Regions from separate parts of the Homo sapiens genome. Here all the other regions are linked to region 1. Evidence: fine-mapped QTL for protein levels in blood plasma. A gene starts in region 1. Each other region holds a variant in brackets. All regions are shown on one strand. Distances are between the middles of the regions.

The links. PIP is the chance, under the fine-mapping model, that this variant and not a neighbour inherited with it causes the effect. The UK Biobank Pharma Proteomics Project read protein levels with antibody pairs (Olink). The fine-mapping took linkage between variants from a reference panel, not from the people measured, so its PIPs are less certain.
Region 2: its variant is fine-mapped to the plasma level of the BTC protein (UK Biobank, PIP above 0.99).
Region 3: its variant is fine-mapped to the plasma level of the BTC protein (UK Biobank, PIP above 0.99).

Annotation. Positions count from the first base shown.
Region 1 is chr4:74,791,285-74,799,470 of GRCh38, forward strand. BTC (betacellulin) reads right to left here and starts at 3,239. Exons shown (of 6, transcript NM_001729.4): 1 at 2,978-3,239. The coding sequence starts at 3,041.
Region 2 is chr4:74,709,647-74,717,832 of GRCh38, forward strand. No RefSeq gene overlaps it. Among named protein-coding and RNA genes, the nearest start is that of BTC, 81 kb to the right of the region's middle. The variant A/G (reference allele first, on the strand shown) is at 4,186.
Region 3 is chr4:74,699,238-74,707,423 of GRCh38, forward strand. No RefSeq gene overlaps it. Among named protein-coding and RNA genes, the nearest start is that of BTC, 91 kb to the right of the region's middle. The variant T/G (reference allele first, on the strand shown) is at 3,463.

The sequences.
Region 1 (8,186 bases):
TGAGCTGAGATCATGCCACTGTAACTGAGCCTGAGCGAAAGAGTGAGACTGTCTCAAAAAAAGAAAAAAGAAAAAGAAAAAGAAAAAGAAAATACAGTAGAGAAATACGAGCCCATTTTGGAAAATCTCATTTTTTGAGAAAGTAAGATTAAATGGCTCAGGATTTCTACTGACTTAGAAAATGCCTTTAAACAGTTTTAGAAAATTAAACCAAATTAATGCATATAAAGAATATCGATAACACATAAACGTGTAATTTATATTTATATTAAATGTATTTGTACCATATAATCTGCTTATGGTATACCTTCTTTTTATATCTCCAACCCCACTTCTGTCTTTATAAAATTTCTCAAAGAAAGTAGTACCTAATTTGCATATGTTAGAATGGAAATTATCCTGTAAAGATGCATCTACTAAATGCCAGATGTATTTAAGGAGCATCTACATTTGTAATAGACATAAGCCATTTCTAATTTAAATCACATGTTATTTTGTTTACTTTTTGAAAAGAATGTGACATGGAAAGGGCATCACCATCTAATGAAACCTCTTCATTTTACAAATTAGAAAAACAATGCCCAGAAAGTTGTAACTTACAGACATCTCGGAGTCATGAAGTGGTAGAGCTGGAACCAGGGCTCATGTCTGCTCAATGCCCACTCTCATCGCATTTCCACCATCTCACACACACACACACACACACACACACACACACACACAAACACTAGTGTCTCATGCATCTTATTGCTCACATTCTTTTCAAAAAGTAAATAGAACAACATGTGACATAATTTAGGAAGGGGACTTAAAAGTAAAGTGTGTATGACAGAAATAGGGCCACTTAATGGAAACAGCGATGCCAACAAATTACGTTCCTTAGCATTTTGCAAGAAATAGAGCTTTAAGGGGATCTAGAGACCAAATTCAATTTCCCAAGCCAATCATTTAACAGGGCGGTTGTACATTTAGGTTACCCTGAGTGTACAATAGCACTGGATTCGAGTTTTGCTTTTTGATTTTCATTTCTGTCTTTTGACAAGTTTTGTGATAGTAAAGGGGAAAGAATGTCCATCGACTTTCAATAGTCATTTCTACTATGACACCTCTGCTAAAACATCACCCTAATTTAGGCCCCAAGTAGCTCATGCCCAGATTATACCTACGAGACAATCAGGTCCTCTGGCCCACAGGCGCCCCCCCTTCCTATACTGCACCTCACTGACAGATTTATCACCTTTAAACCATTGTTTGCATCATATCACTCCCAGTCAAGCCCTGTGATGGTGTGTGTTTAATAGCTTATTGATTCTGTTCCAAATATTCTAATCTGGCTTTTTCAGTTCTTCATAATCTGTCTGCCTCTCAGAAATTCTACTCTTTCCAGTAAAGCATGCTCATTCGCATCGCCAACCCTTTACTAAATGCTTTTTCCCTTGTCTCTGTTCCCTCTTTCCTCTCTACTATTGCAAACTCTACCCAAGCCTCAAGGCACGCATTCGTGTCCTCCATTCAGCCTTTCCCCACTATTCCAGCCCCCGCTGTTGAGCTCTTTCTCCCTTTTCTGATTCCGTGAATTTTTCCACAGGTTACCCTGCTGGGCTTGCATATCCAAATTCAGTGCAAGTTCTAGGGCAGGAATCATGTTTTATTTTAGGAATCTCATGAGCCCTTTCCCCACCTCCATTGCTACATACCTCAGCACCTTGCTGACTACGACAGATTCTCAGGGAATACTTTGACTGTTGGATAGTTTAGACACGGTGGAGGAAGAGAATGTCAGCTACTTGCAAGCAATGCTGGCAAAAGCATCAGTACTATTTCTAGGGTTAAGTCTCAACCCCATTGCTCTTCTTCATGAATGTACACATTCACTCTACCACTAAATTGTTACTGACTCCTTCCTCTTCAGCGTTTGTTAAATAAGTTTATTTTCTCTAACCTTGGTCCTAAGTCTGATCCACCTCCAAGCAAGTTCACTGTACCTTTTTAGCCACCTCTCTTACTCCAAGGACACAGTCAAATGAAAGTTTTCATTTAGGCTCCCCCTCTCTTTCCTCAATAAGAGGAATTCCCATTCTTTTTCATTTGTGGTGTCCCCTTCCCAGGCTTGAAGGTAGGAGTGATATCGTGGTGACACTTCAGCTGTGGAGACTCTCCTCCTACCACATAAATGCTCCAAACCCAGATGTGTCTACAGCCCAGCTAAGATTAGAAAATGTTACTGGTTTCCCTTCCCTTCTCTGCCCCGCAAAATGACCATGATGCAGAGAGCAAGCTTTGAAGAGTTGGGATTTTTTCCTACTTAGAAGCCTTCTCACTACCTTCCCTCGGTGGAGGGGAAGGGGAAGCCTGCTTCCAGCCACATCTGAAGTTCCAGCTCTGCTTTGTGAGTTCTGACTCCTAAGGAGGCAGGAGAGACCCTCTGGAGGGCTCTAGGCATCCTGCTACTCCTCCTCCCGCTGGCACTCTTCCCTAACGCCAGGTGATCACACCTTCAGTCAAAGAGTTCCCGTTCTTCTGCCTCCTGCAGGATATGCTTCTTGGTCTATACTACCACGTGAGCTTCTTTAGTGGGTTTCCCTGCTCGCCCCTGCCCCCACCCCCCGACCCTCACTTGCGAGCACAGCGCCTCACCCCGGTGGACAGCCCGCCGGCGCCGCCAGGCCCTCTGCTGTGCGCACAAGTCAGCAGCTGGCGGCCTGCTCGCAGCACTGGCAGCGAGGACCTCGGAATCGCTTCCGCCCTCGGGCCTTCTCACGCGTCTAGGGACTGCCTCCAGCAGGTGCAGCCCCAGGTGCCCAATTGCCAGATCTTTAACCTCGCGCTCTCCCAGCCTTCAAAGTTCTCCAACCCGCGCCTGCCAGCCCCAGCGCGCCCTCTTGTCCAGATGCCAGCTCGGTTCAGGGTTCGCCCTCCCCGCGACTCCAGCCCCAGACTTTCCTCCTGGTTTCCAGTGCCCAGCACGGCCACTTACCCAGGGCAAGGGCCAGGAGCAGTGGCAGGGAGCTGGCGCCGCTGCACCGGGCGGCCCGGTCCATCAACCCCGCTCTGCCGGGCCGGGCAGCCCCTAGACAAGTCTCCCTCCTTCTTCGCCCCCTTCCCGGGCCTCGGGCGCCTGAGAGGGTGCCTGGAAACTAATCCCGGAGGCAGAAGGAAACGAAACTACTTCCCAGGCTGGCACCCTGGCTACAAGGCAGGGAAACACCCAGGGCGGGAGGCCGGCCGGCTCCGTGAATGTCGCCGGGAGGAGGGAGCCTCCTATTTATCCCCCCTCCTCCTGCACACACCCCGCCAAAGAGGCGCAGGACTTGGTCCTGGGAGCCTCCACGCTGCTCCCACCCAAATTGCCCCACACCCATACCCACACCCAGGGACATATTCGGGCTGCCCTCGGACCAGCTCACCACTCCCCCTGCTGGGTCTCACCTGACTGACTGTTCATTTCCCTACCCCCTAGGGCGTAAACAAGGTAGGGAGGGAGATGTAAAGAATCCGCGTGGAGGGGTGTCGGGGGTTCCGGTCGGGCCTGCAGGCTGACCTAAACTCCTGGAAGCCACCGAGGAAGAGTCAGAGACCCAAACGTGTTCTGGAATTCTAACTTCCTTTATTTCAGAGGATTGCTAGTGTCATGGAGAAACCAGACTCACCATTCATTGTGGTTGACTTCAGGCATTTGATAATGCAGGCAATTTCAAAAGAGTCATTGTTGCCTTTTAAAGTCTTGAAGCCATAGCGAAACCTCGTCTCTACAAAAAATACAAAAGTAAATTAATAGCCGGGTATGGTGGTGTGCACCTGCAGTCCCATCCATTCCCTGAGGCTGAGGTGGGGAGGATCGCTTAAGCTTGGGAGATGGAGCCTTCAATGAGCCTAGATCGAGCCACTTCACTCCAGCCAAGGCGCAAGAGTGAGACACTGTTTCAAAACAACGACAACAACAACAACAACATCAGCAACAAAAAAAAAAAAAAAAAAAAAGAAAAGAAATGAAAAAAGTCTTCAAGCTAGTGTCTTAGTTTCTGGGTGCATTGTCTTCTAATAATTCATAAAATTGGGGCTCACCAGGACCTACTTTAGAAATTTCATTTGTATTTCTGTTTATGAATTTACTCATGTATTCAGTATATTTTCATTTACTTGCATTAAGCAATTTCTGGAACAGAAAGACATCCTCACAGCTTTTAGAGAAAGCAAGCAGCATCCAATTTTACCTTATGTGGTTATATATTGCCTCCAAGATAACCAAAAGATACAGCTGCTTTTGTACTGGTCTGTGTTCCTCATATAAGATTTATGTGGATAATTATGCCCCTCAGTACAGAAATTTTATTTCTATAGCATCCAAAAGTCATGTAAGCCTTATTTTACATATGAAATGTAGTTTGGGTGTCTGCCTCTTCCTCCTCATCCTACTGTTTAAGTTAAGTAAATTGTTGTGCACTTGTCTCCCACGAATAACATTTCATTTCAAAACTAAATTATTTTACTGCCCCAGGCAACTGATATATCCGGTGGAATAAAAATCAGCTCTTAATTTTCAGAATCCCATTCTAGTCCCACATGACAGCTCATAAAACATTGGTAGAGAGGGCAGGCATGAAGTTTAAAGAAACCCAAAGTTGTAAGATGGAAGGTTACTGCACCCCAGCTAAAAAGAGCAGAAACACTGGAAGCCAATGGATTTTGACATCATCTCCCTCCCTCTCAACACTTCCACCCTGCATTTTTCTTTTCTGATATTCTCTCCATCTCTCAGCACCAGTGCCCTAAGTTAAAGTATCTCTTACTCCAAGATGGCATTTAGCCTAGCCAACAGCTGTCCTGTTAGCCCCAACAGAATGCTACAATTTTGTTTTCCTTTTTCGTAGATACTAATAAAAAAAAAAAAAAGCGAGACCTAAACAAAAAGTACTAAATGTTTGTTGAGCATTGGAAAATTCCAGGACTTGGTGTAAGTATTCATCATTTATGCCATTCAAGTGGTAAATTAACTTTTTCAGGCCACTAGAATATGAAGTAGTATAATTTAATATACTAAATAGGACAGATAAATTAATAACCTTCCTTGAGGGCTTTATTTACCACCATAAATAAAATAAGTACTCCCAAGAAAATCCAAATTTTCTGACACTGGATATCCAATCTCTTCAATGTTAAGAGACTTTTCCTGTCTTTTTTTGTTTGTTTCTTTTTTTTCCCCTCACTTTCTTTCTCTCTGTTCTTCCTCCTCTTCTTCCCTCTCCTTCTCCTTCTTCTTTTTCTCCCCCAGCCCCCAACCACCTCTCTCTCTCAAGTCATTTGCTTATGGGGCATGGTAAAGCTGGAATACAACCATTACATTTGGAAGAGTGGAAGGTAAGAATTGATTTTCCTGAGTCCTCAAACATGTAACTGAGTTGCGTCTCAGTGCTTTCATTTGCAAGCTGAGCTGTTACTAAGAGAAAAATAAACCAAAGTTACACCAGAGTCACAAGGTGAAACTTGTATTCCTAGTTAACCCCAAGGTAGGAATTGCTTGAGTGCTGTTCTTCCTGTGCCAGGTTTAGGCAGGTATAACCAGTCCTCCCAAATCTGGTATGAGGCTTAAGTAGATTCCTTTGGAGGGCCTTTAAGCATCAGCCTTTTTCTCTTCCCACACAGAACAGCCTGCAGCTGGGACCGTCCTCCCCGTCTTCTGGACAGGACAAAATAAACTTGTAGTTACATATAGGGCACAACACATAAACAGACACACGCCATGATGGAAAGGAAAATTTTGGAATGCATTCCTTCTAGGCCAACATGTATTCTCCAAATGAAGGCTTTAAGGCATTCAGTAGTATAGGAAAATTTCCTAATGACCATTAACTTTATTTAATAAGAGTGGGTGAATGAAAATGATGAAAGGCATTTTTAAAATTGTAATTTTTATAGTAATGATAAGCATCATGCATTGTAGATTATTAGTGGTACAGTTACATAGAGAGAACTTTCAAATATTTTATTTAAAACTACTGAATTGGTTTCTAAGAATGTATCAGTGAAAAATCACTGCTCAAAAGTTGTATTCAGGTAATTGTATTTTATAATCTAGTTGTTCTGAGGGAGGTAGTTATTTTTTTTCCTGCCTACTTTCTTGTATCTTCCTCTTCAGTCTAGGGGATCCACTTTTTATATGTATTTCTCAATGTGTTTGATTTGTATCTCTTTTATTTTTATTTATTTTGTTTTTTGAGACAAAATCTTGCTCTTGTCCCCCAGGCTGGAGTGCAATGGCGTGATCTCTGCTCACTGCAACCTCTGCCTCCGGGTTCAAGCAATTCTCCTGTCTCAGCCTCCCAAGTAGCTGGGGATTGCTGGCACCTGCCACCACACCCAGCTAATTTTTTGTGGTTTTTTTTTAGTAGAGATGGGGTTTCACCATGTTGGCTAGACTGGTCTCGAACTCCTGACCTCAGGAGATCCACCTCGGCCTCCCAAAGTGCTGGGATTACAGGCGTGAGCAACCACGCCCGGCTGACTTGCTATCTCTTTTAAATGGCAGCTTAACATATGTTATTAAACCTCAAAAATAATTGTCTCTGTGACATTATACCTGTTAGTTTCAGTTCACCATGATGATCTTTTTCTTTGGCCATATTGAAACATACTTCAAAAAGTAACTTCTGATTTTAAAAAATCTGGGCTTTTGTGCTGGCCCTAGTTGTAGGCTAAGTGAGAAAGCACCTATGTGGCCCTAGACATCTCTTCCTAAAGTCCTTGCCACAGTGGCTTCATCTCTTCCTACTTGGTCCCAGACTTCCAGCAAGGTAGACACTCCTCTAGGTGGGACAACAGAGCTGGAATATTATGTACAATTGGTTTTGGAATCTGTTCAGTCTGTTCAATTTGGATCTGTGTCACCCAATGACTGAACCACAAACTACTTACCTCTCTGAACCTCAGTTTCCTCATTGATAAAATGTGATGGTAATGACTTGCACAGTTTTTATGATTCCCAATAATACATATCTTCAAGGAAAAAATCTGGTGTATTAGAAACTGTTCAGTGAATTATAGTTGATAGTAGTAGGAGTAGGAGTACTAGTAGTAGTAGTATTGGTAGAGATGGGTGTCTCACTATGTGACTAGTCTCGAACTCCTGGCCTCAAGTAATCTTTCCTCCTCAGCCTCCCAAAATGCTAGTATTACAAGCATGAGCCACCATGTTCCACTGATAGTTGTTATGTCATTATAAAATTTTACATGGTACATAGAGAGAACCAGTAGGAAAAGGCATCCTTACTAACCCTCTCTTACTAATAGTTGAAGTAGAGAAAGAAAGGCACAGAGCAAGGCTCTGCTGGGAAAGTAACACTGAGCTAAAATTCCATGGATTTGGGTACAATTTTGCCTCTTCATATGCCCTTACACCTCCCTTACACCTCTCTGACCACCTTCTCCATCCTTTTTATTTCTCCTTCCTCCTTCAACTCTCTTTAGAGACCAAGATAGCACGTAACCCAGGATACAAAAACGTGTTGAATATAAACAAAGTACTGTGATTTGAAGATTTAAATAAATGAGCTACCTAGTTTCCCAGAATGCAAAGAAATAAATTCAAAAATTAACTCAAAAAATGAATGTTTGTTGTTGTTGTTGTTGTTGTTGTTGTTTTTGAGACAGAGGAGTCTCACTCTGTTGCTCAGGCTGGAGTGCAATGGCGCAATCTTGGCTCACTGCAAACTCTGCCTCCCGGGTTCAAGTGATTCTCCTGCCTCAGTCTCCCAAGTAACTGGGATTGCAGACATGCATCACCACGCCAAGCTAATTTTTGTATTTTTAGTAGATACGGGGTCTCCCCATGTTGGCCATGCTGTTCTTGAACTCTCGACCTCAGGTGATCCACCCAGCTCGGCCTCCCAAAGTGCTGAGATTACAGGTGTGAGCCACCGCACCCAGCCAAATAATGAATGCTTAATGAGTTTACAACAAACTAACACAGCTTTACGTGGTCATTTTCCCTCCTTCCCCCAACTTCTTGGTAAGGAGAAATGGTGACAGGAAAGAGTAAGAAATGAGAAGCAGCAAAGCTGGAGAAGAGAGGGAGGATGAGCTTAAAATAATTCTTCAAAAAATCTTTCATAGATGCAGAATGATATGTTAAAGGAGTTAAAAAAAAGGTGAAATCTACCTCTTGTATCATCTTCGTTTCTCATCCTTCC
Region 2 (8,186 bases), 82 kb before region 1:
TTGTAGTTCTCCTTGAAGAGGTCCTTCACATCCCTTGTAAGTTGGATTCCTAGGTATTTCATTCTCTTTGTAGCAATTGTGAATGGGAGTTCTCTCATGATTTGGCTCTCTGTTTTTCTATTATTGGTGTGTAGGAATGCCTGTGGTTTTTGCACATTGATTTTTGTATTCTGAGACGTTGCTGAAGTTGCTTATCTGCTTAAGGAGATTTGGGGTTGAAACGATGGGGTTTTCTAAATATACAATCATGTCATCTGAAAACAGAGACAATTTGACTTCCTCTCTTTGTATTTGAATACCTATCATTTCTTTCTCTTGCCTGATTGCCATGGCCAGAACTTCCAATACTATGTTGAATAGGAGTGGTGAGAGAGGGCATCCTTGTCTTGTGCTGACTTTCAAAGGGAATGCTTCTGGCTTTTGCCCATTCAGTATGATATCAGTTGCGGGTTTGTCATAAATAGCTTTTATTATTTTGAGATACGTTCCATCAGTACCTAGTTTATTGAGAGTTTTTCACATGAAGGGGCACTGAATTTTATCAAAGGCCTTTTCTGCATCTATTGAGATAATCATGTGGTTGTTATCATTGGTTCTGTTTATGTGATGGATTATGTTTACTGATTTGCGTATGTTGAACCAGCCTTGCATCCCAGGGATGAATCCGGCTTGATGGTGATGGATAAGCTTTTTGATGTGCTACTGGATTCAGTTTGCCATTATTTTATTGTGGATTTTTGCATCAATATTCATCAGGGATATTGGCCTGAAATTTTCTTTTTTGTTTGTGTCTCTGCCAGGTTTTGGTATCAGGATGATGCTGGCCTCATAAAATGAGTTAGGGAGGAGTCACTCTGTTTCTATTGTTTGGAATAGTTTCAGAAGGAATGGTACCAGCTCCTCTTTGTACCTCTGGTAGAATTTGGTAGTAACTCTGTATGGTCCTGGGCTTTTTGTGGTTGGTAAGCTATTAATTACTGCCTTAATTTCAGAACTTGTTATTGGTCTTTTCAGGGATTTGACTTCTTCCTTGTTTAGTCTTGGAAGGGTGTATGTGTCCAGGAATTTGTCCATTTCTTCTAGATTTTCTAGTTTATTTGCATAGAGGTTTTTTTAGTATTTTCTGATGGTAGTTTGTATTTCTGTGGGATCAGTGGTGATATCCCCTTTATCATTTTTTGTCAATTTGATTCTTCTTTCTTTTCTTCTTTATTAATCTGGCTAGTGGTCTTTTTATTTTGGTACACTTTTCAAAAAACCAGCTCCTGGATTCCTTGATTTTTTGAAGCATTTTTTATGTCTCTATCTCCTTCAGTTCTGCTCTGATCTTAGTTATTTCTTGTCTTCTACTAGCTTTTGAATTTGTTTGCTCTTGCTTCTCTAGTTCTTTTAATTGTGATGTTAGGGTGTCGATTTTAGATCATTCTCCCCTTTCTCATGTGGGCATTTAGTGCTGTAAATTTCCCTCTACATACTGTTTAGCTGTGTCCCAGAGATTCTGGTACATTGTGCCTTTGTTCTCATTTGTTTCAATGAACTTATTTATTTCTGCCTTAATTTTGTTATTTACCCAGTAGTCATTCAGGAGCAGGTTTTTCAGTTTCCATGTAGTTGTATGTTTTTGAGTGAGTTTCTTAATCCTTCTTCTAATTTGATTGCACTGTAGGCTGAGAGACTGTTGTGATTTCCATTCTTTTGCATTTGCTAAGGAGTATTTTACTGCCAACTATGTGGTCAGTTTTAGAATAACTGTGATGTGGTGCTGAGAAGAATGTATATTCTGTCGATTTGGAGTGAAGAGTTCTTTTATGTCTATTAGGTCTGCTTGGTCCAGAGCTGAGTTCAAGTCCTGAATATCCTTCTTAATTTTCTGTCTCATTGATCTGTCTAACATTGACAGTGGGGTGTTAAAGTCTCCCACTATTACTGTGTGGGAGTCTAAGTCTCTTTGTAGGTCTCTAAGAATTTGCTTTATGAATCTGGGTGCTCCTGTATTGGTTGCATATATATTGAGAATAGTTAGCTCTTCTTGTTTCATTGATCCCTTTACCATTATGTAATGCCCTTCTTTGTCTTTTTTGATCTTTGTTGTTTTAAAGTCTGTTTTATCAGAGACTAGGTTTGCAACCCTGCTTTTTTTTTTTTTTTTTTTTTGCTTTCCATTTGCTTGGTAAATATTCCATCATCCCTTTATTTTGAGCCTATGTGTGTCTTTGCACATGAGATGGGTCTCCTGAATACAGCACACCAATGGGGCTTGACTCTTTATCCAATTTGTCAGTCTGTGTCTTTTAATTGGGGTGTTTAGCCCATGTACATTTAAGGTTAATATTGTTATGTGTGAATTTGATTCTGTCATTATGATGTTTTCTGGTTATTTTGCTTTTTAGTTGATGCAGTTTCTTCATAGTTTCAATGGTCTTTATAATTTGGTATGTTTTTGCAGTGGCTGGTACCGGTTGTTCCTTTCCATATTTAGTGCTTTCCTCAGGAGCTCTTGCAAGGCAGTCCTGGTGGTGACAAAATCTCTCAGCATCTTCTTGTCTGTGAAGGATTTTATTTCTCCTTCACTTATGAAGCTTAGTTTGGCTGGGTATGAAATTCTGGGTTGAAAATTCTGTTCTTTAAGAATGTTGAATATTGGCCCCCACTGTTTTCTGGCTTATAGGCTTTCTGTAGAGAGATCCACTGTTAATCTGATGGGCTTCCCTTTGTGATTAACACAACCTTTCTCTCTGTCTGCCCTTAACATTTTCCTTTTATTTCTACCTCGGTGAATCTGACAATTATGTGTCTTGGGGTTGCTCTTCTCAAGAGGTATCTTTGTGGTGTTCTCTGCATTTTCTGAATATGAATGCTGGCCTGTCTTGCTACATTGAGGAATTTCTCCTGGATAATATCCTGAAGAGTGTTTTCCAACTTGGTTCCATTCACCCCATCATTTTCAGGTACACCAATAAAACATGGGTTTGGTCTTTTCACATAGTCCCATATTTCTTGGAGGCTTTGTTCATTCCTTTTTCTCTAATCTTGTCTTCACACTTTATTTCATTAAGTTTATCTTCAATCTTTGAAATCCTTTCTTCCCACTTGATTGATTTGTCTATTGATACCTATGTATGCTTCATGAGGTTCTCATGCTGTGTTTATCAGCTCCATCAGATCATTTATATTCTTCTCTAAACTGTTTAATCTAGTTAGCAACTCCTCTAACCTTTTTTCAAGGTTCTTAGCTTCCTTGCTTTGGGTTAGAACATGCTCCTTTAGCTTGGAGGAGTTTGTTATTACCCACCTTCTGAAGTCTACTTCTGTCAATTCGTCAAACTCATTCTCCATCCAGTTTTGTTCCCTTGCTGGTGAGGAGTTGTGATCCTTTGGAGGAGAAGAGGCATTCTGATTTTTGGAATTTTCAGCCTTTTTGTGCTGGTTTTTCCTCATCTTCATGGATTTATCTACCTTTGGTCTTTCATGTTGGTGACCTTTGGATGGGGTTTCTGTGTGGACATCTTTTTTGTTGACATTGATGCTATTCCTTTCTGTTTCTTAGTTTTCCTTTTGACAGTCAGGCCCCTCTGCTGCAGGTCTGCTGGAGTCTGCTGGAGTTTGCTCCAGACCCTGTTTGCCTGGGTATCACCAGTGGAGGCTGCAGAACAGCAAAGATTGCTGCCTGTTCTTTCCTCTGGAAGCTTCATCCCAGAGGGGCACCCACCAGATGGCAGCTGGACCTCTCCTGTATGACGTGTCTGTTGACCCCTGCTGGGAGCTGCCTCCCAGTCAGGAGGCACAGGGATCAGGGACCCACTTGAGGAGGCAGTCTGTCTATTAGCAGAGCTCAAGCGCTGTGCTGGGAGATCCACCGCTGTCTTCAGAACTGGCAGGCAGAAACGTTTAAGTCTACTGAAGCTGCGCCCATAGTCGCCCCTTCCCCCAGGTGCTCTGTCTCAGGGAGGTGGGAGTTTTATCTATAAGCCCCTGACTGGGGTTGCTGCCTTTCTTTCAGAGATGACCCACCCAGAGCGGAGGAGTCTAGAGATGCAGTCTGGATACACCAGCTTTGTGGCACTGTGGTGGGCTCTGCCCAGTTTGAACTTCTCAGTGGCTTTGTTTACATGGTGAGGGGAAAAATCCCTACTCAAGCTTCAGTAATGGTGGATGCCCCTCCCCCCACCAAGCTGGAGCTTCCCA[A/G]TTTGACTTCAGACTGCTGTGCTGGCAGCGAGAATTTCAAGCCAGTGGATCTTAGCTTGCTGGGCCCCATGGAGGTGGGATCTGCTGAGCCAGACAACTTGGCTCCCTGGCTTCGGCCCCCTTTCCAGGGGAGTCAAATGTTCTGTCTCGCTGACATTCCAGTAGCCACTGTGGTATGAAAAAAACCTGAAGCTAGCTTGATGTCTGCCCAAATGGCTGCCCAGTTTTGTACTTGAAACCCAGGGCCCTGGTGGTGTAGACATCCAAGGGCATCTCCTGGTCTGCAGGTTGCAAAGACCATGAGAAAAGCACAATATCTGAGCTGGAATGCACTGTTACTCATGGCACAGTCCCTCAAGGCTTCCCTTGACTAGGGGAAGGAGTTCCCCAAGCCCTTGCACTTCCCACATGAGGTGACGCCCATCCTGCTTCTGCTCACCCTCCATGGGCTGCACCCACTGTCTAACCAGTCCCAGTGAGATGAGCTGGGTACCTCAGTTGGAAATGCAGAAATCTCCTGCCTTCTGCATTAATCTCGCTGGCAGCTGCAGACTGGAGCTGTTCCTATTCGGCCATCTTGCCAGCCAAAATTGATTTTGGACTTCTGGCCTCCATAATTCCAAGAGAATAAATTTCACTTGTATTAAGCCACCCAGTTTGTTACAGCAGCTATAGAAAACTAACACAGATGCCAACTTGTCTGCAGCTCAGCTATCATAACAATAACATAATGAACTTCACACCATAAGACTATCAACTCTTAACAACTCCCAACTTTATAAAAATTCTTTCATAAATTAAACAGCCAAAAATTATACATAATATGGGAAGTGTGGTTATATTTTAATATATCTGATATGGTGAAAAGCAAAGCCTCTAAAAATAAAAGATACTAGGAATATTAATGTCTTAACATGTTCGTGAGTCTGTGGGTCCTGAGATGCTCTCTAATTACTTGGAAACACTCCCAGTTGGATTAATTAACTGCCAGCTTAAGTAATTGGGAGTAACAGCTATTTCATTGTTTAACCACAGATGCATTGCCCTCCCTCCCACATACCAGAATAGGGAGATTAAGCACATGGCCAGAGAAAAAATAAATGTACTTTTGATGAGAATAACTTTTTTTGGCCCAGCTTTACTATTAATTAGTATTTTCACAAGAACTCTGTCCAAGTTATGAAATGTATTTAGGTAATCCCAAGTACAACAAGTAGACAGGTATAATGTCAAAATCTCATAAGTAGAATGTCAAAATCTCAGAATGTCAAAATCTCTTTGACATTACAGCTGGCTTGTGGCATGGAACAATTTTTTCCATCTTATACTTTTCTGTGTATCTTGAATTTTTTAACAATAAGCAATAATCCCCTCTCAAATCAGAAAAAAATAGAAATAAAGAGGAACACCCTAAATTTACTTAGTTTCTATTTATGTTCGAACATGGAATCTTGGACCCCAGTTACTTTGCTTCAGTGCTTACTTGCCATCAAAGAAGCCTCCTTTGTATTGACTGAGCCCAAAACCTGTTCTAAGATTTGCCGGCCTGGTTCCTTAGACATACTGACTGCCCCCCCTTTACTCTGTCACTACAGCAGCAAAGAGCACCATAGAGTATGGCTTATTAAGGTCTCTATCATGGTATAACTGAGCAAATCAGTGCTGACACACTTTCTAACACTTTCTAACAAAACATACCATTTAAACAGCAACAACTTTTTTTTTTTTTTTCTTGAGACAGAGTCTTGCTCTGTTACCATATTGGCTGGGGTGGTCTCGAACTCCTAACCTCAAGTGATCCACCTGCCTCGGCCTCACAACATGCTGGAATTACAGGCATGAGCCACCATGCCTGGCCTACAGCAACATTGATGCTTGGTCTCCCTTAGACTTGTGAGATGGCCCGAGGAACCTTGTTTTAACTCAAGATTAATTCTACGTAACTATAAGTCTTTATTATTCTTATCAAGACCTTACATGTGGTCTTCTATTCAGGTAGAGACTAATCCACAAGGTTGGCAAGTTACACACGGAGAGAGGTAATTTACCTTCCTAACCAGTTTCAGTTTCATAATCACAGCACCATTAGTTTCACCTCTGCATATAATTAAGCGAAGACTCACCCAGCTGTAGCCATGTAAGCTGATCATTCAAAATCCACATATTTAGCTTTCTGTCCTTTCTATTTCTTCTCTCTCATCTCCCTAGGTAGTTGTGAAACACAAACCCCCAAACATCTTCAAAAGCTGTCACAGATCATTGCAGAAGCATAAAGTACTTTTAAAGCATTTCTGCCATGGAGATAGATTCCTATCATATCTTTCCTTTCAATTAAAGCCTGACTGGAATATGTTTAGCAGTGAACAATGAAGTCTGTTTATGAAAAGTTGTTACTAATTTGTGCAAGCACATTTCTACGGGTTTAAAGCAACTATGAATCACACAAATCCATGTGGGCAAGAAAAAAATTTTAATTTGAGTTTCCAGGTCATTTTTACTATGTGAGTTCTTTCTTTCCAAAACTAATTACTGAAGGAAGCAGGGCAGGGTGAGAAGAGAAACAGCCAAGCTAAGTAAAAAGAAAAAAGAAAAGACTAAGCATTTTTCTTGAGATCAGAGAAATCACAATCATGTAACAATGTTTTTTACCCTGCTAAGACAGAAACCAATTTCACTGACTTGAGACACACTCCAGAAGAGAACTGGGTTTCTCAGTGAACCATGAACTGCCTCTGACCCTCAGTTCCCATCATTGGAAATCAGAGCCGTGGGCCAGTTGGGCAGTTTCCATGCTGTACTCAGTGGCATTTGGAGGGTTCTGAGCATGTGCTTAGGGGCAGCCCAAGTTCCACACCCTTCAGCTTTTATCTGTTATGTACATTAACTCACATAAGATTTTTGTTTTAGAAAGAAATAAGATGTGGATTTTTGTTGGTTTGTATAAGACAAATTGAAAAATAAGACTGGTTAATAGTAACTATAAGAAAAAAATATCTTTACATTTTATGGTGCCTGGTCCCATAAATTATTACTATTTTTTATTATTATTATACTTTAAGTTTTAGGGTACATGTGCACAACGTACAGGTTTGTTACGTATGTATACATGTGCCATGTTGGTGTGCTGCACCCATCAACTCGTCATTTAGCATTAGGTATATCTCCCAGTGTTATCCCTCCCCCCTCCCCCCACCCCACAAGAGTCCCCAGTGTGTGATATTCCCCTTCCTGTGTCCATGTGTTCTCATTGTTCAATTCCCACCTATGAGTGAGAACATGTGGTGTTTGGTTTTTTGTCCTTGTGATAGTTTGCTGAGAATGATGGTTTCCAGCTTCATCCATGTCCCTACAAAGGACATGAACTCATCATTTTTTATGGCTGCATAGTATTCCATGGTGTATATGTGCCACATTTTCTTAATCCAGTCTATCATTGTTGGACATTTGGGTTGGTTCCAAGTCTTTGCTATTGTGAATAGTGCCACAATAAACATATATGTGCATGTGTCTTTATAGCAGCATGATTTACAATCCTTTGGGTATATACCCAGTAATGGGATGGCTGGGTCAAATGGTATTTCTAGTTCCAGATCCCTGAGGAATCGCCACACTGACTTCCACAGTGGTTGAACTAGATTACAGTCCCACCAACAGTGTAAAAGTGTTCCTATTTCTCCACATCCTCTCCAGCACCTGTTGCTTCCTGACTTTTTTTTTTTTTTTTTTTTTTTTTTTTTATTATACTCTCAGTTTTAGGGTACATGTGCACATTGTGCAGGTTAGTTACATATGTATACATGTGCCATGCTGGTGCGCTGCACCCACTAATGTGTCATCTAGCATTAGGTATATCTCCCAGTGCTATCCCTCCCCCCTCCCCCGACCCCACCACAGTCCCCAGAGTGTGATATTCCCCTTCCTGTGTCCATGTGATCTCATTGTTCAATTCCCACCTATGAGTGAGAATATGCGGTGTTTGGTTTTTTGTTCTTGCGATAGTT
Region 3 (8,186 bases), 92 kb before region 1:
GAGACCCGCAATAATGAGGAACAAGGGCCTGGGAATGTTGGGTAGCCAAGGGAATGGGTAAAGGTAAATGTGGTGGTTTGTCTATCCAAAGGCTCTTCCCTATGCCCCTCTCCTGACCTCCTCAATTGCGGGGGCTGGAAAGCTAAAGCACTCACCTTCCCAGACATGCTTGTAGCTCAGGGTAATCAAGTAGCCCAGAACTGGCCAATGAGGCATGGGTAGAAGTTACTGGTGAGATTTCCAAGAAATATGATTGGTTTTTAAGGGACAGTCTGGCCAAAGGCTGTCGTTCCCTTTGGTCCTTCCGTCTTCCTGACCCCTTCCTTTTTCTTCTTGCCTAGACTAGGTAATTAATACCTGGAGGTGTAGCAGGCATTTTACAACAGTGAAGTAGAAATTTTAAAATGGTGGAACGAGACAGAAAGAGCTCCTATGACACCATTGAGAAGCTGCTCCAGAGCCACGCTTCTTATGACATGAGAAAAATAAACTCCTATCTGGTGGAACTACTGTGATTGAATCTTCTGCCATTTGGATGTGAATTAATTCTTAACTGACATAATGTGGACTACATGCTCCAGTCATTAAAGTATATGTTTTAGAAATAAGAGTATTTATCAAAGTGTGTTAAAAGATTTTGATCAAAAGTCAGTCCTATGAACAATGGTTTGGGAAACACCAAGTTAAAGCAAATTAAACAGCTTACTTTATTTAAGGAAGTACAGGATACTGCATTTCCCTCACTTATTTCATTATCAATTTCAATGCCCTGGTTTCACTAGAACAAAGTTTGGGAAATTCTGGTGTATGACATATCAATAATATAGGACATAATTAATAACTTTTTCCTAAGTAAAAAAACAGGTTATAGTATGTATTTATGTTTACGAAGATTATGTCTTCTGAACATTTTTATCTATTTACTTGTTTTTCCATACTATCTAAATAAAATATAACTACTTATGTCATTCTTGTAATCAGAAAAAAAAAAACACAATACTGTTTTCTCAGTAGAATTCTGCTTACTTGGGGGGAATGAATGGAGACATGTGTTAAGTTCTTGCATGTTGTATTAAGTAATAGAACTACATTCCGGTAATGTATCTGCCTTAGATAGCATGACTATTCTAAGGCTGCTTCATGGATCACGAGGTCAAGAGATTGAGACCATCCTGGCCAATATGGTGAAACCCTATCTCTACTAAAAATACAAAAATTAGCTGGGTATGGTGGTGCAGGCCTGTAGTCCCAGCTACTCGGGAGGCTGAGGCAGGGGAATCGCTTGAACCAGGGAGTCAGAGGCTTCAGTGAGCCAAGATCGCACCACTGCACTCCAGCCTGGTGACAGAGCAAGATTCTGTCTCAAAACAAAAACAAAAACCAAAACCTACTGTTTGCTTAAAAACCTGCTGACAGAGCACATGACCAGCTGTGGAGATGAACACGGGAGGGATTGGGGGTGGGGGTTGGGGTTCTCTGTTTGTTCCTGAGAAAGTAAGAAACCCTCAGCTCAGACTAGTCTGTGGCACCAGCAGAACTGTCTTGAGGAGAAGATAGAAACTGTTGCATAAAGAATACTCTGAAGAAGGTCCTCACATGAGTGGCAGTCAGACAAGCTCACGGTGAGTACAGGTGCCTTCAGTTCTGTCAAAATGTTAAGATATATTAAGGAATAAATTAAGGAATATTAAAACCATCAGAATTTTATTTCTTCTACATCTAAGTGACCATATATAGTTGTAATGTGGCCAAAACTAACTTGCCACAAAAAATATCAATTATTTGTAATTTATTTAGACAATGGCTCTTTTTGAGGTTTTTAAAGAAAATTTAAAATGAAATACAAACTCAATTTATAAAATTATTTTGCTATGGGGTAGACAGTTAAATAAGGCCTAAGAACTCAATGGAAATAATGTATAACTATTAATATTCTGATTTTAATAGTTGTATTGTGGTTATATTGGAAACGTCATTTTTGTGGGAAATACACACTAATGTATTTGGAAATGATGGGACACCCGTTTGGAAACTTTCTTTCAAAAGCTTCAAGAAAAAAGGTCTATGTATTTTTCTTGCAACTTTTCTGTAAATTTGTGATGATTTCAACAATATAAAAATGCATTTAAATCAATGATTAAGCAAAAAACCTCACTAAATTCTATTCATCACCTTCTCCACACTTGTTTCAGATCACTAGAAATATCAGTTCTGCAAGCTCACACAACTGCGAACCAATTTATTAATGGACACGCTAAGCTACATTGCTGTGGAAAGGCATTGTCTTAGCATAGTTTTTTTCCAACGAGTACCCTGACAGCATCTCTATTTCTACTTAGAGGCTGAAAACACTTTGCCATTAAATAACTATTTTCAACAGTGAGAATTTTGTATACTAAAAAATATATAAAGATATCTCCTCCATAATCCATTACACTCTCCAAGGTATTTTCACATACCTTACATCACTGGATTCTCATCAGATTGGGAGGCAACTTGAGGGAGCTGAAAGAGAAGGAGTCCTAGACTAGGAAGGACTTGGCCTGTGATTCCAGCTGCACACATCCTGTGTGCCTTGGGAACATTGCCTAAATTCTCTGGGCCTCTCCTTCAATAGCTGCATCTCCTAAGTAATAAATGTGCCATTTACAATAATCACACTTTTCATTGTGAAGATATAGTAAAGTAAAAGTCACCAGGATGAAGTATAAATCACAATCAAGGATCACTTGTTTATCCAACCAACAATTATCCTGTACTTGTTCAGTGCCAAGCACTGTTCTAGGCACAGGAGACATAGCTATGCCCTACAGATATGGTTCCTGCCATCAAGTTCACAGTCTAATGGAAGCAGAGACAGACAGGACAATCAAATGATGATATCACCAAGTGACTGGGGTAAGGTAAAGAGTGACTTTAAGAAAGATAGTCACAGTGAGCTTCTTTAAGAAGAGCTGACACTTCAGTAACAGGAGGCAGCCGTGCTAAGACCTGCACGAGCAGCTCCCCCAGAGTGACCCATCAGAGGGGAAAGATGCCTTCAGAGGGAAAGGTTGCTTTGTGGAAATGCAGCTTTCTGTCAGTGTCCTGTGATCCCAGGCTGCAGAGTCTGTGAACACAGCATTATCCCTTCAGCTGCTGGTTGTTTGGGTACATTCATGGAGAAATCATATCAGGGTGAATAAGAGTACCCCAATTATTCTAACCTCAAACTCAAAGAGATTCAGCTAAAGAATAACCCTAGACTTTTAAGGAATTTTTTTTAAAGATAATGTGTGTATGTGTGTGTGTATGTGTGTAATATTATTCAAATTTTTATATGATTACATTTCATACGAATATTATTTCTGAAATCAGTTATTTTCTATTCTCCTAACTCAACAATTACACTCCCATTTACATACTATATTAGGGCAATTATCCTCAAGTATAATTAAGAAGCTAAAAAATGAGCACAGAAAG[T/G]CTTTGTGACCACATACAGGCAGACTGCCTTATAATTGAATTGCATGAATCAGGTAAAAAGCAAAGAAAGAAGAGAAAAGTTATTCCAACTCTAAAACCTCCGACTATCCGACAGTCATGGATTGTCCCCAAACACGGACTGTTAGTTTTATTGTCATTTACTTTGTACATTCACATCAGTAAAGTTTAGTCATTTGATTCATGCTTCAAAATTTTTTAATTGCAAAGTTTTCATGACTTAAAAATGGAAAACTCCTGAATTAGAAAGACTGTTCACATTTATGTGTCTGTCTATTTGTGCTAAAAATTATTTCTCCAGTCTACATTTACATTCCAATCTAGGATTGCTCTTAGAGAATTCTGAAATGCTTTCTATATTTGGTAGAACTGCATCAGAAACAAAAATATGCACATTTATTTCTTGAAGGATCATACCATGTTTAACATGTAATTCCAGCTCCCCTTTGCCTTTACATTTTTCTTTCATGGGGAAAAAAAATGCTTTCAAGGTATGGATGGCACAGGCCATTTGGCCTCAGACCAAAAATCACCTGAGGATCTGTGACTTCCTGGAATAGCTGGGTGTCAGTCATAGAGGTCCTGGTTCAGAGGCTGAGGCACACAAAGCCTCCTTATGTCAGGAGGGTGCTAGAGTCAAAATTCTCATCCTCTCCTTTCCCATCTAATCTCTATTCTTAAGAAGCACTTAAGGCACACAAAGTAAGTGTTGGGTGAATATTCCAGAATTAGCAAAGTGTGCTGAGACTTCTAATCATTTCACAACAGCGTTCTCTCCTTCTTTCTTTATATCTCTGAGTATTAGTTGAGTGAATGGCTGCTCTTCTACAGTCCACTTCTCCCAGCTAAGTGAGTTTGTGTGGTTGAGTGTTGGCCAAGAGTGTGTGAGCAGAAGCTATTCCCCAAAGGAAACTGCAACCCCTACACTGCTCTTTTCCTCACTCCTTGGACTGAACAACATTGACCACCCCAAGATGAAGGCAAATCCCTAGGGAGTAATAAAGCCATGGGATTAAAGGATCCTGGTTCTTTGAATGACATCATGAAACAAAGCCACCTACTTTTCAGCTGTTACATGACAGAAAAATATTACTAAACTTCTATTTTGTTTAAACAACGGTGCTTTCAGTTTGTTGATGACAGAAGTTCAATTAGTATCCAAACTAGCACCCACAGCAATTAATTCAACATGTATTTGATTATCTCCTTTCTTTGTGCTAGGTACTGTGCTACTTTCAGTGGGAAATTAAAAAAAAATCAGAAGATATATTTCTTGCCCTTACAGAGGTTAAAAACTAGTAGAAAATTATATGCACAGAAGTAACTACAAAGCAAGGGAGGATGCAAGAATGCATCAGAGAAGGAAGACAGCATAAAATTCTGTCAATCTGTTAAACTTGTAACCAACATCTTTTCTTGAATGCCAAATATGTGGAATGACAAGCCAGCCTGCATGAAAATGATAAGGGTGGTGAAGCTTATTTGCACCCATCTTTTTTGCCTGTTTCATATTTCTTCCTCCTTTCCCAGGCACCCAGAGCCTTCTGTCTTCTATAAACCTCCCTTGCAGTGTCCCAGCAGCTCTGGATGGTACCCTATGCCCATACTCCCCTCAGTATATGCATGTCAAGTTTCCTTTTTCCTCAGGTTCTTACTGCCTCTGGTTCTTACTTAACAAGTGTTAAAGGTATACTGTGTTGCTGCCTCTCTAGTAATAATAGCTAGCATTTCTTGAACATTTGCTATGTACCAGGTATTATTCTAAGCTCTTTCTATGTAACTCGTTTAATATTCACTGAAATCCCATGACAAAGGTACTGTTAGTAGGAAAACTGAGGCTCAGAGAGGTTCAGAAATTTGCCCAAACACACGCAAATAAGTGGTTTGTATTTGAACCCAGGCAGTCTGATTCCTGAGCATCCAGAATCTATGCTTTTAACTGCATACAGCACAACTTTTAGCATTTTGTCAGTCATCTTTGGAAAATAAGAGGTTTTAATGCTAAGTGTTGGGCTCACAGGAGTTAAAACTACTTTGGCAGGACAATAAGAAAAGATAATTTGCATAAAAAGTCCTCACATCAGACCTTGTAGATAAAAACCTACCAATGGCGTGCCAAACCAAGTTCACTGTTTCTCTTCATAAGGTTAAATGAAGACTCTTGAGGAGATAAAAGATTCCCTCATCTCAAGAACTTACTACCCAAATGACACTTGTAGTAGTCTTTCTGTTCCAGTGATGATCTGGTGCTCCTTTAAGGAAGGAGTGGGATCCTATAAATAGGAAGATGATCTGCTTGGGTGCCATTCTATAGGATGGCACTATTTCCCAAACTGGAGTATGTTTTGATTGTCTCTTCTTCACTCCATTGGTGAGGGAGGCATTCCCACCCTGGAATTATAGGGATGGCAGAACACACAACGCCCAGCACTGGGCAGATTATATCCCAGCAGTTTATCAGTCACATAGATGCACAGACTGGGGAAGAACACTGCACTCCACTCAGGACGGCGGGGTGAGTTGCATTTGGGAACACAGTGAACAAGCAGAGTTGTGGGAGGCAGGCTTTGTAGTACCAAGAGGGTGAGGTGACCCTTGATTCCTGCAGAAGCACGTGCTTGGCTTGTTTTAATAATGTTGCAGGCCCAGAATTAAAGCCTGCTATTGAGGGATAAACAGACACTGTGCCTGGTTCCTCTGGTAAGTAGTGTTGTTTGGCTGGAGGACTTTATCCACAGGAGTAGAGTGGAGGAGGGGGGAGCTTGTGATTAGGCCATTAAAAACTCTCCCAGTTTCAGATGGCAAAGAAGCACATAATGCTGAATCTTAATTTCAAGCCTGATACCACAAGGCGGAGGACAGTCACGGGTGATAGCAAGATGTGTTCATGTGGTTCACAACACATACATAAGTATATTGATTATCTAGTGAGAAAATTACTCCTTTTGCTGGGATTGAATGAGAATTTCATTCAATCCTCAGATTTTATCAAGGAGGAAATTTGGGGTCAATGCCATTGTGCATTTACCAGCTCTCAAAGACTTGCTCATCTCCCTTTCTAACAATAACAAAGCAAGTCCAAAACCTTTTCCATGGGCAGTTAATACTATCTATCCAGAATTTTAAAATATTGTTTCCTTTTCGTTGCATTAATATTTGTTGTTTGCCTTCTATTTATAGAGATGCTGATATTCTAATTACGATAGTGATATAGTTGCCTTTTAAATAACTATGAATTTAAAACACAGGAAATAAAGGAATATCAAGTAAATAATACTATAGTAAATAGCACAGAGAAATGTATAATTATTGAACAAGATTCCAACATTTGGGAAATTCTTTAGTATGAGATAATGGTTTTCCTGGCTCATCCACTATGGGCACAGTGATAATGACTGTTAATATTAACAGAATACATTAAGTTTGGATATGAATGGTATCTGAGCAAGTTCTTTCTAATTCAAGACACTCAAAGACTAAAGATTACAGAAAAAGTTTAGTTGCAAAGATCAAAACTTATATAATGAAATCAATTATATATAGTCCTATCAAACAGTAAATAACCACACACATCTGTAGTTCAAGTAATGGTATCGACTATTGTTTCCCTATCTCAGAGAATGAATGAAAACTAAGTTGGGGTGACAGAGGTTAAGCCTCTATTCTGGTTATAATCTTTTGTGATTTAGGCTACAGTTTTAATTTCTTTGTCATGTGCTTTATGTATTTTTTTTGAAATGATACAGCATAGTACATACAAGATAAGTTGGGCTTTATAGCTAAACAGACCTGGGTTCAAATTCTGCCTCTGCCATCCACTTGCTGGGTGACTTTGAACAAATTATTTAGCCTCTCTGTACCTTGCTTCCTCATCTATAAGAAGAGATTATACGTCATTTGAAGAAATTGTCTGAGCAGTGGAACTAGTAAGTAAAAAGGACTGTGTATAGTGCCTGGCAGCACAGTAAGCCCCTGAGAGCTGGCAAATGGAACAATCTGCTTAAAGTTTGAGGTTTAAAGTTTAATGCTTCTCTGTCTGAGCTGTAGTTAACATTAACTATTTCACTCTCTCTGTAATTCTCTTATTTGTTGCCACAGAAATATGAAATTCAAGAACTCTGTAGACAGAAGTCTCCTCCTTTGCCAACGCATCCTAGCAATTCCCTCTGCAAAATACCTCTTAGAAAAACACCAAAGACATGGACTCAGCCTAAATGCCGACCAAGGATAGACTGGAAAAAGAAAATGTGGTACATATACACCATGGAACACTATGCAGCCATAAAAAAATGGGATCATATCCTTTGAAGGGGCATGGATGGAGCTGGAGTTCATTATTCTTAGAAAAGTAAAACAGAAAAAGAAAAGCAAGTACTACATGTTCTCACTTATAAGTGGGAGCTAAATGATGAGAATACATGAACACATAGAGGGGAACAAAACACTCTGGGGACTTTCAGAGGATGGAGGGTCAGAGAAAAGAGAGGATCAGGAAAAATAACTAAGTAATTCATCACCCAAGTACTAGGCTTAATACTTGAGTGATGAAATAATCTGTACAACAAACCTCCATGACACCAGTTTACCTATGTGACACCAGTTTACCTATGTAACATACCTGCACTTGTACCCTGAAGTTAAAATAAAAGTTTTTTTTTAAAAAAAGAAAACACCTGCTCTAGCTATAGGTGATGCGATTTCTTTTA